Regions from separate parts of the Homo sapiens genome. Here region 1 is linked to region 2. Evidence: fine-mapped expression QTL. Tissue or cell type: whole blood. Region 2 holds a variant in brackets; the other region holds the start of a gene. All regions are shown on one strand. Distances are between the middles of the regions.

Region 1 (8,109 bases), 220 kb before region 2:
ATTATATCAATTTTCACCTAAGTCTGCTCATTCTACCTTCTCAGTGTTTCTCATCCATTTATCTCCTATTGTCTCTACCCTAGTTCAGGGCTGCTTCATCTCTTAGCTGGACATCTGTAATAGGATTTTCCTGCCTTTAGGATATTTCCCACTTTAATTCATCCTACACACTGGAGTCTTATTAATCTTACTAAATTGCAGCTCTGCTCATTTAATGTGACAACAATTTACTGAGAGCATACTATATACTAGGTGCTCTAGGGCAGTAGATTCTAAATGGTGTGATCACCAGATTTATTAAGTGAGGGAAAACTTTTCAAAATAGAGATCCTCCACCACCTCTCCAGGCCTACTTAATTACAATCTTCAGAGCTAGAATTAAGACAAGTTTCTTTTTAAAAAGTTCCCCAATTGACTCCTTTGGGTAACACTAGATGCTTTTGAATAACATTAGACTGGAACAAATAAAGATTATGACATTCTTGTGTATTTCAGAACGTACTGGGAGGGATATGAACATAAGCAAATAGCTACCATATAATATGCCGATTAATGATATATTAGAGGTACCAAGTGCCATGAAAAGATTAATTCGAACTGCATTAAATACCTTCAGCACCACACCCAGCTGGATGAAATCTGTTTGTCCTGTAATCTTCCATAGCACTTTATCTATAATCCTCTTATGGTCTTCTTTCATCTTGCTCAATAATTATTTTTTTATTTGTCTCATTTCCTCTACCCTTGTACTTGAGGCCACAGTCTTGGTCTTTGTGGTGCATGTAGTCTGACAAGAAATTTTTTTTGGAGTTCAAATTTATTTACACGATAAAGTTACACAAAAAATTAAATTTTGTAAAGTTAGGTATTTAATAAATGATCTCAAAAATAGGTCCTTGTAACTCTAGGATATATGTAGCCAAACGTATGGATCTTAATCCCTGCATGGCACTTAGTACAGTTCCTTTAACACAACAAGTACTCAATAAAAAAAGCTGTGCATAAACCAATGGGGTCTGGGAAAAATGTATTTGGATATGCAATAAAAATACTTAATATGTCCAATATCCACCATCAGGTTATGATTCCAAACGAAGTAACATGGTGGTGGTTTTTGCAAACTGATAACCTGTAAGTCAAAACCAGCCAAACTGTTTTGTTTGGATGGCTCGGGTGGGGATGGAGGGTTGTTTACAATTTTAATTTGAATGTCTTCTGTCTGGGCAAATATACTTTGAATTGCCACAGGCCCTACCACTTCCTATTATCTTACACTAATCTGACTTACACATTTATGCTATCTATAGGTCTAAAAATGGGAGTTCTGAAAGGTGACAGATAATTGCTCCCAATCATTTCTGCTTTTTGAGTCTTGGCTACTGTTATGGCCTTGAGTCTCCCCAAAAGTTATATGTTAAAGGTGTAACCCCTAGTACTTCAGAAAGTAACCCTATTTGGAGATAAGGTGTTTGAAGAGGTAATTAAGCTAAAATGAGGTCTTTAACACGGGCCTAAATCCAGTAGGGTTGGTGTGCTTACAAGGAAAGAAAATTTGGACACAGGTGTGCACACACATGGAGAAAACAGCACATGAAGACAAAGAGATGAGACAGTGATCTGAGTCAAGGACAGAGACCTCAGAAAGAAACCAACCCTGCTGATACCTTGATCTTGAACTTCTAGCCTCCAGAATTGTGAGAAAATAACTTTCTGTTGTTTAAGCCACCTAGTCTGTGGCATTTTGTTATGTTTGCTCTAGCAAACTAATATGGATCTCAACTATATTTAGTATTAATCTTGGCAGTTTTACATCAAAACTTATTTGTTCAAGTCTGTCTGCCAGGTACATGGTGAACACAATTCTGAGTAGTTTAGGGTTTAGATGATGCAAGTTATATGTAAGATATATTCATAAACATAAATAAGAAACATTATAAAGAATACAAAAAAATGCCAAATAAAGACTATTATAGGCATTCAGGAGGGAGAGAGGTGACTATGGACTAGGTCACAAAAGATTCACAATTTGACCTGGGTCTTAAAAGCGTAAGTAGGATTCAGCCAAGCTGAGGAGAGAGGACATCAAGGAGATAACAGTGAACAATGCCAAATACATGTCTACTACCGGAGGAAATTTATTTTTCTCCTTTTAAGTACCTCTATGTTCAAGTTTCTTTTCTGTGCTTTCTAACCTCTAAGATCACTATATATTTTTAAATGAATGGTGTAAGTCCTTACAAAATTTAGGCATTTTTTTTTCTTGTCAGATAAATAACAGTTCAACTGACTTTGTTCAGTACAACACTGACATCCAAAGGATACTCGGGTTCATCTGAAGGCCTCTTGGGCTTCTGCTGAGTTGGTTTGATTTTCAAATGGTCTATGTAGGCAGTAAGCTGCTCATGGAACATTCTCTTTTGAAACCCTGGGCATTTTTTGATCTCTTACCCATTTATCAAATCTCATCACATTAAATGGCTCCACAATGCAGGTGGCCTGTGTTTTCCTAAGTGCCTCCTCTTCTTAAGAATGTATTACTCAGTTCATTAATGTTTCATACTTAAGTATTCTGTGTATTTAATTTTTTATTTAATGAAATTTCTAACCTTCAGGCTGACGAATTATTCAGAATGTTTCATCCAAGCTGTTGGAAAAGTGCTCATTAGCAGGGAGTTTTGAAGATGGAATTTTAAGAAAGGGGTTGGCAGGATCCCAAACACATATAGATCTAAGCTTTCATAAATGCTTCCCTACCTTAGCTATGGAGGAAGAAATTGTTGATAAGCAGATAAGTTTTGCTTTAGTTTTTACATTTTAGTGACAATAACAATGATTTCTGTGGTCTGATAAAAGATGTTCGTTTAAAGAGTTATCTGCAGAAAGCTGTGTGGTCACTAATGTTTACTTTCATTGACAAATGAGATCGTCTTGTGTGGGACTATCATCATCAAATGAGACACAACTGAAACTAAAGCAGCCATGCTTACCATTCGGTTTAAAATTTTTAAAATTAAAATAATGCTCCTAACGAAAGGAGTCTCAGCTGAATTAGTTTGAGTGTTGGCATGGACTGGGCTCAAATCACCTGCTCATCTTTAACACCTGCCTTCAGATTTATGGGCGATTAAGAACTTAAGTCTGAGAACCTATGAGACTGTCACAGAAAATAAAATTTCAGTTCTTCGTCCATTAACTGGTTCAGATGAAATTTGGGGTCAGAAACAACCAGAACGTTAAATTTCATTGTAAACTTAAATCGCATTCAATGGTTAAAGACTACAAAATGTATGTAGTGCAGTTAAAAAACCTCACACAGCAAGAGGTTATTGAATGTTTAAAGATCCAAAATTTCAACTTTTTGTGGTTAAGTACAGTTATGTTGGGTAACAAAGTTGACAGCAGGTTTCTGTTACCCCCCTGTTGGAGGAGGAGGAGGCGCTACCACACGCTTACCTTAGGGAAATAACGTGCACTTTATAACCGTTCAGGTAAATCGTTGGGTGAGAAAGAAGAATAAAGGACACAGCCGGTGGAGGGACCCCAGCACACAGTCCCGTGGGTGCTCCGGAGGAAACGGCCGCAGCCCCAAATCTCCTAGTCTCTCTAGCAGGGAGTTTTCCCGCGGAGTCTCGCCTGGCGGCCGGAAGCCACCTCAAGCCGCCCACCCGGAAGCCGTCGTCTTGGCAACTGGGTATCGTCCCACCCCCTTTTCTTAGCAACGCCTATCGCCTTAGACGTCTGAGGTCAGCCGAGCCTCGATTGGTTCCTCTGTCTTTCACTCTGGGAGACGTTTGAGACCCAGCGTCTCTAGATCTCGTATTTGAATTTGTGGCGCTTGGTGTCCGCGAGTTGCCGAATGAAGCTGAGCGTCTCAGTGGAACCAGGGATCTCAGGGGTGAGCGACCGCGAGGGGAGAGCGACGAAAAGGGCGGCCGGAGCTGGAGGGGCGCGGAGTTAAACAAAAAAGGGCGGCCGGAGCTGCAGGGGCGCCGAGTTAAACACGTCATTTCCAGATGGGGGGCTTCAGGCGAGCTGCTTAGCTCCCCTGAGGCAGGCCCTCCGTCTGTTCGCCTTTTCGTAGCCTCTGAGTTTTTCCCTCACGTCGTTTTCCGGCAGTCCCAGAGACGCCACGCCTGCCCCCGTTCTGTTGCCCCTGATGGAAGGCTCCTCTTAACGCTACCTTCCCTCTTTCACAAAATGTCTCTCAGCTTCCTTATTTCGACGTGCTTACACCTCCCCCAAGTATAATTCACTCCCCACTGATGTCTTTGGTAGTTTCATCCTCGTCTTCATCACTAATACTATGAGACACGGGGTGCGTGCACTTGACGATGTAGAAAAATGGTTTTCGCGCAACCTGGTGAGCGTCCCACACCTCACAAATTGAATCCAAAAAATTCCTTATTCATAAAAGATGCTGCTGTCCTACTCTTCCCGACCGGGAATATCATGACGTGGAAAGCAGCAAGTGACAGCGTTTTATAAAGCGCTACAAAAGTAAGCTATTGATGCGTTCACATCGGAAACATAATTGTTTTGTTTTCGGTCGGACCCTCTGGATCCATAGGTTTCGTATTGGGTTTATGGATACTGTTCAGACTTTGAAATGAATAATGCCAAAAGTTACGTTGGAGGACAAACTGAGGATTGATCCCAAGCACAAAAGTAACCACTGATTAAAACCTTCTCTTCATTAACCTTTAGCTTCTTTGTCTATTGTGATACTTCTCCCACCCCGGTGGATTTAATTTCCATTGAGATTTATGAACATTTTAGGAGTTTACAGTCTAAATAGACAGCTTTCCCCACCTCTCCTGTATATGACCATGAAAATCCTCTATTAACTTTCCAGTTTGATAATGCAGTATGAGCTTCTATATGCTTAGCCTCTAGAACAGAGATTCTTTTGGGGGTGGGGGGTCTTAGTCCTGTTTAAGACCCAGAGGAAAACCTTGGAGCTTTTCTCCAGAATATGACACATACACACAAAATTTTGTATTAGTTTTAGAGAGTTGTATTTTGTTTTAGTAGAAAAGAGATCTGACTTTGTTGCTCAGACTGATCTCCAGTGTCAGCCTCCCAAAGGGTTGGGATTACAAGCGTGAGCCGCCGAGCCCAACCCTGTTTTAGGGAGTTTTAGATTCTGTTTTGAAATGTGGATATTAGTGGGACCCCAGTCCAATTCTACACGTTTATTTATATATATACACACACGTATGTCTATATATATAATTATATATATTTACATAATATATATCTATGTATATAATTTTTTTAAGTAGAAATAAGCAGCGAAACAGTGTTTTAACTTCTACCGAATGGCTGTCATTTCTTAGTTTTAAGACTTGTAGTTCGGAGGGAGGTGGAATGAGAAGGCTGAAAATTTTACATGAGCTCTGATTTAAGGATATTAGAAAAGTCATTTCTAAGTGTGGCGGTCCACGCCTGTAATCCCAACCAACACTTTGGGAGGCTGAGGTGGAAAGACTGCTTCAGCCCAGGAGTTCGAGACCAACCCAGGAGTTCAAGACGATAGTCGGACCCCATCTCTACAAAAAAATTTTAAAATTAGCCAGCCGTGGTGGTGTTCGCCTTGCTCCCAGCTACTCAGGAGGCTGAGGTGGGAGGATCACTTGGGCCGGGGAATTCCAGGCTGCAGTGGCCAATGATCGTGCCTATCTCCAAAACAAACAAACAAAAAACAGAGAGATAAAGGTAGTAAGGTAGTATATGAGCACAGGGGCATACCAAAAAATAAGTTCACAAGGTATTGCATCCAGAGTCTTTTTGAATTAACAAGAAATAGGAAAATTCTTGATCAACATGAAGAGTGAAAATAGTTTGTGTGCCTTAATTTTTTGGATGTTTTATATTAAAATAATTTTATGGTGAATTCTACCAGCATATACCTGAATATAATCTCATAATCTTCTTCCTAACCATCTCAGGCATTATCTTTCACATGAGAACATTAGCTTACCTGAAATTTGCTTTTATATATGATGTGAGGAATGGCTTTAACTAAATTTTTTTTCACTGTTCGGTTGCCATTTTGGGGAGATTGGTCTTCAGTTTTGCTTTATTTTGATTGTCTGGTTTTAGAATTAGGGTAATGGTGTCTGACATCTTTAAGTGATCTGGGATGTGTTGTATTCTTTACTTCTTGAAAAAGTTTGTATAAGATTGGCATTGCATTGTTAAGTGTTTGATAGAATACATCCATCTATGTAGATCCATATTTTCATAATTTTCCTTCAGTTTGAATAACTTCATTTATTTAATACTGCATGTAGGTGAAGGATTCTGTCAGTGTTTGTTTCTTAGAAAATGTTTTTATTTAACTTTCATTTTTGAAAGATTTATTTTTAAACTGGATATATAATTGTAGGTTGACTTTTTTTAGCACTTTAATATTCTATTGTCCTCTGGCTGTTGTTTTTAGATATTTGGTGTCATTCTTATCTTTGTTCTCCTGTATATAATGTCTCCCCCAACCCCATCCCACCTCACCCTCACTTTTGAAAAAACAAAGTCGGGCATATTTAGTCATAATTTGCATATGGTAAAGTTGACTCTTTTAAGGAATACTGTTCTATGAGTTTGGACAAATGTGAAGAGTTGTGAACTATCACAATCATTTTTAGTATATCTGTAAGTCTGTAAAGTCTCATGCACTTATTATCGATTTTCTATCCTCACCATTGGTCCCTAGCAACCCTTGATCTGATATCTACTGCTATAGGTTTGTGTTTGGAGGCATCATGTTAGTGGAATCACATAGTATGAGCTGGTAGTGTCTGGCTTCTTTCACTTGATATAATACTTTCAAGATTCATCTATGTTCTTGCATGTATCACTAATTTTTTCTTTTAATGTGTGAGTAGTATTCCATTATATGTATTACCAGTTTGTTTATCCATTCAGCAGTTAATGGGCTTTGAGTTGTTTCCAGGTTTTGGCTGTTAGTAATAAAGCTGCTATAAACATTTGGCTACAGGTGTTTGTGTGGCCAAAGATTTTAATTTCTTGCTTGCTTGCTTGCTCTTTGCTTTTTTTTTTCCTCTCTATTTTTGTTTTGTTTTGTTTTGTTTTGTTTTTGAGGTAGGATATGGCTCACCATAACCTCGAATTCCTGGGCCTCAGCCTTTTCAAGTAGCTGGGACTACAGGAGCATGTCACCAGGCCTAGCTAATTTGTAATGTTTGGTAGAAAAAAGGTCTTGCTATGTTGTCCAGGCTGGACTTAACCTCCTGGTCTTAACCTCCTGCCTCAAGCAATCCTTCCACCTCAGCCTCCCAAAATGTTGGGATTATAGGTGTGAGGCACCATGCTCAGCCTTAATTTCATAAAATACTTTAAAACCTTTTTCAAAAGTGGCTGTCCCATTTTGCATTCCCATCAGCTGCATATGGCAGTTCCAGTTATTCAACAGTCATATCAGCCCTTGGGGTTTATAGTAGTTAGTAGTTTAAATTTTTTAAACTATTGCTCTGGGTCTGTACTGATGTCTCATTGTAATTTTAAGTTATATTTCTCTGATGCTTAATGAAATAGAGTAGTCAGTCATTCATCCACTTGTTATCTGAACGTCTTTTGTGAAGCATCTATAAAAATGTTTTGCCCTTTTTTTTTTTTTTTTTTTTTTGAGATGCAGTCTCACTCTGTTGCCCAGGCTGGAGTGCAGTGGTGCGATCTCAGCTCACTGCAGCCTCCTCCTCCTGGGTTCAAGCAGTTCTCCCACCTAAGTCTCACGAGTAGCTAGGATTACAGGCGCACGCCACCATGCCCAGCTAATTTTTGTATTTTTAGTAGAGACATGGTTTCACCACATTGGCCAGGCTGGTCTCGAACTCCTGACCTTGGGGATCCACCTGCTTTGGCCTCTCAAAGTGCTGGGATTACAGGCGTTTGAGTTACCATGCCTGACCTGTTTTGCCTATTTTATTTGGTAGTTTTATTGAGGTACAATTTACGTACAACAAATTTCATATTTTTAAAGTGTATACTTTGATAAGTTTTGACATGTACCCATGAAACCATCACCACAATCAAATTAATGTACATCTACAACATGGCTGAACCTTGGAAACATGTTAAGTGAAAGAAGCC
Region 2 (8,109 bases):
AAAGAATTAAATATAAGACCTCAAATACGAAACTACTACAAGAAAACATTGGGGAAAATCTCCAGGACATTAGTCTGGGCAAAAATTCCTTTCTTGAGTAATAGCCCACAAGCACAGACAACCAAAGCAAAAATTGACGAATGGAATCATATCAAGTTAAAAAGCTTCTATACAGCAATGGATATAGTCAACAAAGTGTAGAAAAACCCACAGACTGGGAGAAAATATTTGCAAACTACCCACCTGACAAGGAATTAATAGCCAGAGTATGTAAGGAGCTCAAACAACTCTATAAGAAAAATATCTAATAATCCAGTTTTTAAATGGTCAGAAGAAGACATACGAAGGTGCTCAGCATCATTGATCATCAGAGAAATACAAATCACAACTGCAAAGAGATTTCATCTCACCTCTGTTAAAATGGCTAATATCCAAAAGACAGGCAATAACAAATGCCGGCAAGGTTGTGGAGAAAAGAGTACCCTCATACATGTTGATGAAACTGTAAGTTAGTGCAACCAGTAGGGAGAATAATTTGGAGGTTCCTGAAAAAACTAAAAATAGAGCTACCATATGATCCAGCAATCCTGCTCCTAGGTATATACACAAAAGAAAGGAAATCAGTATATCAGAGAGATATCTGCACTCCTATGTTTGTTACTGCATTGTTCACAATAGCTAAAATTTGGAAGCAAGTTAAGTGTCCATCAACGGATGAATGGATAAAAAAATGTGGTACATATACACAATGGAGTACTATTCAGCCATAAAAGGAATGAGATCCTGTCATTTTCAACAACGTGGATGGAACTGGAGGTCATCATGCTAAGTGCAATAAGCCAGGCATAGAAAGACAAATATCACATGTTCTTACTTATTTGTGGGATCTGAAAGTCAAAACAATAGAACTAATGGAGATAGAGAGTAAAAGGATGGTTACTAGAGGCTGGGAAGGGTAGTTGGAGTATAAGTGGAAGGTGAGGATGGTTAATGGGTCAAAAGAAAAAAAGGAAAGAATGTGAACAAGACCTAGTATTTGACAGCACAATAGGGTGTCTATAGTCAAAAATAATGTTATTGTACATTTTAACATAACTAAAAGATAATTGGATTGTTTGTAACACAAATGTAAATGTTTGAGGGGATATCCAATTTTACATGATATGATTATTACACATTGCATGCCTGTGTCAAAACATCTCATGTACCCTGTAAATACATATGCGACTATGTATGCACAAAAATTAAAATCAAAAATCAAAAAAGTAAATATTCACAACTAAGAGTCACAAAGAAGAAATCAAAAGGGAAATCAAAAAGTATCTTGAGAGAAACAAAAATGGAAAATCAACATACCAAAACTTATGCAATGCAGCCACAGAAGTTCTAACAAAGAAGTTTATAGCAGTAAATGCCTACTTTAAGAAAAAAAGAGAGATCACAAATAAACAGCCTAACTTTATGTCTCAAGGAACTAGAAGAAGAAGAACGAAATAAGCCCAAAGTTAGCAGAAGGAAGAAAGGAATAAACATCTAGAAGAAATAAATGAAACAGGCTAGAAAAACCATAGAAAAAAATCAACAAAACAAAGAGTTGTTTTTTGAAAAGATAATGAAAATGATAATGAAAATCTTTAAGGAAAAATGAGAAAAGAATCAAATGAATAAAATTATAAATGAGAGAAGAGACATTACAGGTGATATCACAGGAATACGAAGGATCATAAGAATCTTCTGTGAAAAGTATATGCTAACAAATTGGATAACCTAGAAGAAATGGATAAATTTGTAGAAGCATACAAATTAACAAGGCTGAGCTTTGACAAAATAGGAAATTTGAATAGACCAATAGCAAGTAATGGGATTGACTAAGGAATCCAAAACCTTTCAACAAAGAGTATCTCGGGACAAGATGGTTTCACTGGTGAATTCTACCAAGTATTTAAAGAAGAAGTAACGCCAGTCCTGCTCAAACTCCTCCAAAAATGTGAAAAGGAGGGAACACTTCCAAACTCATGCTACAAGGCCGGCATTACCCTGATACCAAAGCCAGACAAGGACACTGCAAGAAAAGAAAATTACTAGCCAATATTTGTAACGAACATAGATGTGAAAATACTAAAAACAAAACTAGTAAACTAAATTTTACAGCACATTTAAAAGATTATATACCATTGTCAAGTGGGATTCATCCTTGGGATCCAGTCATGGTTCAACCTACACAAATCAGTAAAAGTAATATACCACATTAACAGAATGAAATATAAAAATCATATGATCATCTCAATAGATGCAGAGAAAGCATTTGATAACATTCAACATGATTTCCTGATTTAAAAAAAAAAAAACACCTCTCAATAGACTACGTATAGAATGAATGTACCACAACATAATAAAAGCCATGTATGACAAGCCCCAGCTAGCATCCTACTCAGTGATGAAAAACTGAAAGGCTTCCTGCAAGATCAGGAACAAGACAAGGATGCCCACTCTTGCCACTTTTTTCAACACAGTGCCTAGAGGTCCTAGCTAAAGCAGTTAGGGGGGAAAATCCATCCAAATCAGAAAGAGAAGAGCAAAATTGTCTCTGTGTGTAGATAACTTTACCTTATTTCAAAAAAAAAAAAAAAAAAAAAACCCTAAAGAATCCACCAAAGAGTTGTTAGAACTAATAAAAGTAATAAAGTTGCTGGAATTAATAGAGTTGTATTTATATCACTAACAACAAGTTTTCTGGAAAAGAAATTAAGGAAACAATTCCATTTACAATAACATCAAAAAAGAATAAAATACTTAGGTATAAATGTAACCAAGGAGGTGAAAGATGTGTTCACCTGTATTTATTATACTACATTGTATTGTACAATGTAGTACAATAAAATACTGATTAAAGAAATTGAGGTAGATGAAAGAAATGAAAAGATATCTCAAAGAAAATGAAAGATATATCATGTTTGTGGATTGGAAGAATTTATGTTGTTAAAATGTAAAATTCAGTGTGATCCCTATCAGAATTTCAATGACATTTTTCACAGAAATAAAAACCCAATCTGAAAATTCACTTGGAAGCACAAAAGGCCCCAAATAGTCAAAGCAATCTTGAGCAAGAACAAAGCTGGAGATATCACCCTTCCTAATTTCAAATTATGTTACAAAGCTATAGTAATCAAAACAGCATTTAGTACTGGCATAAAAACAGACCCATAGACCAGAGGAACAGAATCAAGAGCCCAAAAATAAACCCACATATATGCAGTAAACTAACTTTTCACAAGAGTGCTGAGAATACACCACAGGAAAAAAAATTAGTCTCTTCAATAAATGGTGTTGGGAAAATGGGATATCCACATGAAAAAGAATGAAATTAGACCTTTATATTACACTATACACAAAAATCAACTCAAAATGGATTTAAGACATAAACATAAGACCTGAAATTATAAAACTCCTAGAATAAAACATAAGACAAAAGCTCCTTGACATTGGTATTGGCAATTATCTTTTGAATATGACACCAAAAGCACAGGCAACAAAGCAAAAATAAGTAGGACTGCATCAAACTAAAAAGCATCTGCACAGCAAAAGAAACAATCAACAAAATGAAAAGGCCACCTACGGATTGGGAGAAAAGATTTGCAAACCATGTATCTGATAAAGGGTAGCTGGGTGCAGTGGCTCACCTGTAATTCCAGCACTTTTGGAGGCCAAGGCAAGCAGATCACTTGAGTCCAGGAGTTTGAGACCAGCCTGGGCAATGTGGTGAAACCTTGTCTCTATAACAAAAACAAAAATTATCCCGGCATGGTGGTGCATGCCTGTAATCTCAGCTACTCGGGAGGCTGTGGTAGGATCACCTGAGCCTGGGAAGGTAGAGGCTGCAGTAAGGCAAGATCACACTACTGCACTCCAGCCTGGGCAACAGAGTGAAACCCTTTCTCAAAAAAGGGGGGGCTAATATCTAAAATGTAAAAGGAAATTACACAATTGATAGCAAAAATGAAATAGCCTGATTTTAAAATAGGCAAAGGACCTGCATAAACATTTCTCCAAAGATAACATACAAATAACTTTTCAGGTATATGAAAAAATGCTCAACACCACTAATTATAAGGGAAATGCAAATCAAAACTGTAATGAGCTATCACCTAACACCTGTTAAGATGGCTATTATAATAGATAAAGAAAATGTGGCACATATATACCATGGAATACTGTACAGCCATAAAAAAGGATGAGTTCATGTCCTTTGCAGGGACATGGATGAAGCTGGAAACCATCATTCTCAGCAAACTAACACAAGAACAGAAAACCAAACACTGCAGGTTCTCACTCGTAAGTTGGAGTTGAACACATGGACACAGGGAAGGGGATATACACTGGGGCCTGTTGGGTGCTGGGGGGCTAGGGGAGGGATAGCATTAGGAGAAATACCTAATGTAGATGATGGGTTGATGCGTGCAGCAAACCACCATGGCACGTGTATACCTATGTAACAAACCTGCACATTCTGCACATGTATCCCAGAACTTGAAGTATAATTTTAAAAAAAAGATGGCTATTACAAAAAAGACAACAGATGACAAGTATTGGCAAGGATATGGGGAAAAGGGAATCCTTGTATACTGTTAGTGAGAATGTATATTGGTACAGCTATTATGGAAAATATGGAATTTTCTGAAAAAATTAAAAAATAGAACTGCCATATGACCCAGCCATCTCACTTCTGAGTATATCTAAAGGAAATGAAACCAGTGTCCAAGAGATATTTGCACTTCCGTCTTCATTGCAGCATGATTCACAATAGTCAAGATGTGGAAACAATTTAAATGTCCAACAGATGCATAGATAAATTATGACATATAAATACAATGTAGTATTTTTCAGCCTTAACAAAAAAAAAAAAAAA[AG/G]AAGAAGAAGAAGAAAATCCTGTCAGTAACAACATGGGTTGACCTGGAGTGCATTATGCTAAGTAATGCAGGCACAGAAAGACAAATACTGTGTAATCTCACTTAAATGTAGAATCTTTAGAAGTAGAAGTTACAGAAACAGAGAGTAGAATGGTGGTTGCCACAGGCCGTCGAGAGGGCAAAAGAGGGAGGTTATGGTTAATGGGTACAAAGTTTCACTTATACAAAATAAGTTAAGTTCTGGTGATCTACCATATAACATGATGCCCGTAGGCAAATTTGCTAGGAGAGTAGATCTTATGTTAAGTGTTCTTACCATACACACACCAAAAACAATAACAATAATAATGGTAAAGCAGGCGTGAGAAAACTTGAGGAAGTGATGGATATGCTTATGACCTTGATAATGGTAGTGGTTTCTTGGGTGTATACTTCTCCTCAAACTCATTGAGATATATACATTAAATATGTGCAGCTTTTTATATGCCAACCATGCCTCAATAAAGTTAAAAAGAAGCATCTAATGTAATCAAATAGATTTTCTGGTTGGATATAGTTTCATAGAAATTCAAGTATTACCAAAAAAATAATGGTAGGGTTATGGGCAGGGGCATCAGTGGTTTGATTTCTACTACTCAGTGCTTTAGCATCTGTACAAGGTACAAAGGATTTGATTCATAATTTTATTTGACTCACAATGTGTCTCTGTCGAGTTTGCAAGTGGAACTTCAAGCTCAACTATATGGAAACCAGATGACTGTTTAAATTTGAAGACAGAGAATAGAAAAGGATGGAATTCCAAAGTACTGTATCCAGAACACATAGAAGCTATGACTCACAAAGTCAAGGAGAGATGACTTCTTTTGGCATTTAAGATTAGCAACACCTTTAGGTCTTGACCAGTCATTCTCATAAAGAATGAAAATTCATCCTCCCAAGTAGTTAATGCATAAAAGAAAGCCTTTCCTCAAGAAAGAGCCAACATTTTCTTAATAGCATCCTATTATCTCAAACTCTAGAACGACTATGGAGAGGCAGATTATATTTTGTTTCTCTCAGAGAAGATATAAAGTTTTATCCACTTAAAGCTTTTTTTCTCCTAAAATCATCATCTAAACTGAATTGAAATATAATTTTATGAGAGAAAGAATTCACAATTTCTAACCGATGAATGGTTGTGAATAGCAAAAGCTCAGAATTTTCATTTTAAAAAGGGATTGGGGGAAAGAAGGTGATACTATGGGAAGAATATTGATCAAGGAGATAGGAGACCCAAGTTTTAAACCTAATTCTGGTATTAACCAGCTATGTGAACTTGGATCAGTAACTTTACACCTTTAAGTCCTAGTTGCTTTCACTCTAACTTGATAGAATTAGATTAGGCGATCTGGTCTCTAATGCATATGATTCTGAAAAGAAGGGGGATATCTTTCTTTGAAATTATATGGACTTTATTATCTAATAAGAAAAAAGTCAGAAGAAAATAAAATGAGTTATATGGATATCTAAATCTAACATCTATTAACTTGGAAGTGAGCATCCATAAAGCCCTTGCAGTTCTCTGTGCTTTGCAGCTCTTTCCTCTACATTAGATGGAGGTGGACGAATCAAAGAGAAGTGTACTTTTTGTTCACTGAAAGCTTTTGGCATATACATCAGCTAGAGTTGGTGTGACATTGCTGGCTACTGTGTCCTTTTCTTCTGGTCTGGAAATTCATAGCTAACTTAGGGAATTTATAAAGCATTTGCGTTCTCCGTTCTTTATCAATCACTGACAGACTCATTGTTTTATAATGTACTTCTCAGCAAGCTGTTTGTGACTCATCGCCTGCTTGCTTTATAGTCTATAAATATTTAATTCTTTAATAAACTGCTTATATGTAATATAAAATGACTGATGCTATTCTCTCTCTGCTCTTTTAATAGTGCTACTATTTGCAAAACAATTCTCTTTTTTTCTAAATAGCAATATGTTTCACAAATGTTTGACTTCCCTTTTTCTAAGTAGCAATTTATTCTGGGAGGTTGGTAGAATGACAGGCAGGAAAACAGCCCCTTACTTCTGGGAGTACAATATAACTCTTCCCTCATCCTCACCCCTACTAAGCTGCAAATTGATGAGGTAAAGAAGATGGACTTTGAAATTGTGACAGAGAGCAATCGCCTGTCTCTCTATAGACTCAGTGTGCAAAACAGCCTTTAAATCTCTAGACTAAATGTTTACAATGGACAAATATGGTTCCCTCTTTGCTCGACATCCTTTGTCTAGGGGAATCATAAAAAATAGTCAGGGATAATATACCAACACCTTAGTGTGCCCATCTTTATAACTGTGTACTTGATTTTTTAATGTTGGCTGATGTGCTTTCTGTGCCATGAAATAATTTTTCAATATTTAATGTCTCATTTTTTAAGTTGGATAAGTCAGATGCTTATTGAGTGCTTGTTGTGTGCCCTGCACAGCTGTTAGTGTGTTTTCAAGCAAGCTACTATTATTTGTCTATGGTATTTCAATATAATTTATAAAACCCTACAAATTGTGAACTCCCTTGTGCTAAGGCAGGGAGGAAAAATTGGAGAAACCAGAACAAATAACATTTCTTCAGTGCTACCATTAATCAGGTACATTTGATCTTGGAAAATTCGTGGGGAGAGTGGGGATAGAACATTTGTTTCCAAGTTTGAAAATCTTGATTTATATGCTACTTCCGTGATGTATTAGCTATTACTTTAAGCTTTTCACCTACGCTTTTTTACCTGTAATATGGGCATAAAAATTATGCAGTTTATATGAACACCTGACATATACAGGTTTACTTTGTTTTATTACCCTCCTCTGCACTTCACAGATATTGTGTTGGTTTTTTTTTTTTTTTAACAAATTGATGGTTTGTGGCAACCCTGGGTGAGCAAGTCTGTGGTGCTCACTTTGTGTCACATTTTGTTAATTCTCTCAATATTTTAAACTTTTCAGTCTATTACGGTGTTCTGTGGTCAGTGATCTTTGATGTTACTATTGTAATTGTTTTGGGATGCTATGAACTATGCTCATATAAGATGGCTAACTTAAATTATCAATGTTGTGTGTATTCTGACTGCTTGAGCAAGTGGGCATTCCCCCATCTCTGTTGCTCTCTTCAGGCCTCCCTGTTCCCTAAGACCATATGGATGTTAGACACAACAATATCGAAGTTAGACCAAT

Evidence for each region. PIP is the estimated chance that this variant, and not a neighbour inherited with it, causes the effect.
Region 1: ZFHX3-AS1 starts here. The variant in region 2 is fine-mapped to the expression of ZFHX3-AS1 in whole blood (INTERVAL, PIP 0.95).

The regions. Positions count from the first base shown.
Region 1 is chr16:72,660,678-72,668,786 of GRCh38, reverse strand. ZFHX3-AS1 (ZFHX3 antisense RNA 1) reads right to left here and starts at 3,654. Exons shown (of 4, transcript NR_171704.1): 1 at 3,454-3,654. LINC01572 (long intergenic non-protein coding RNA 1572) reads left to right here and starts at 3,817. Exons shown (of 14, transcript NR_126330.2): 1 at 3,817-3,895. RefSeq lists enhancers at 3,856-3,915, 3,956-4,075.
Region 2 is chr16:72,441,585-72,449,693 of GRCh38, reverse strand. All of the region lies in intron 6 of LINC01572 (long intergenic non-protein coding RNA 1572), which reads left to right. All of the region lies in intron 1 of LOC124903718 (a long non-coding RNA gene), which reads right to left. Among named protein-coding and RNA genes, the nearest start is that of LINC01572, 220 kb to the left of the region's middle. The variant AG/G (reference allele first, on the strand shown) is at 4,907.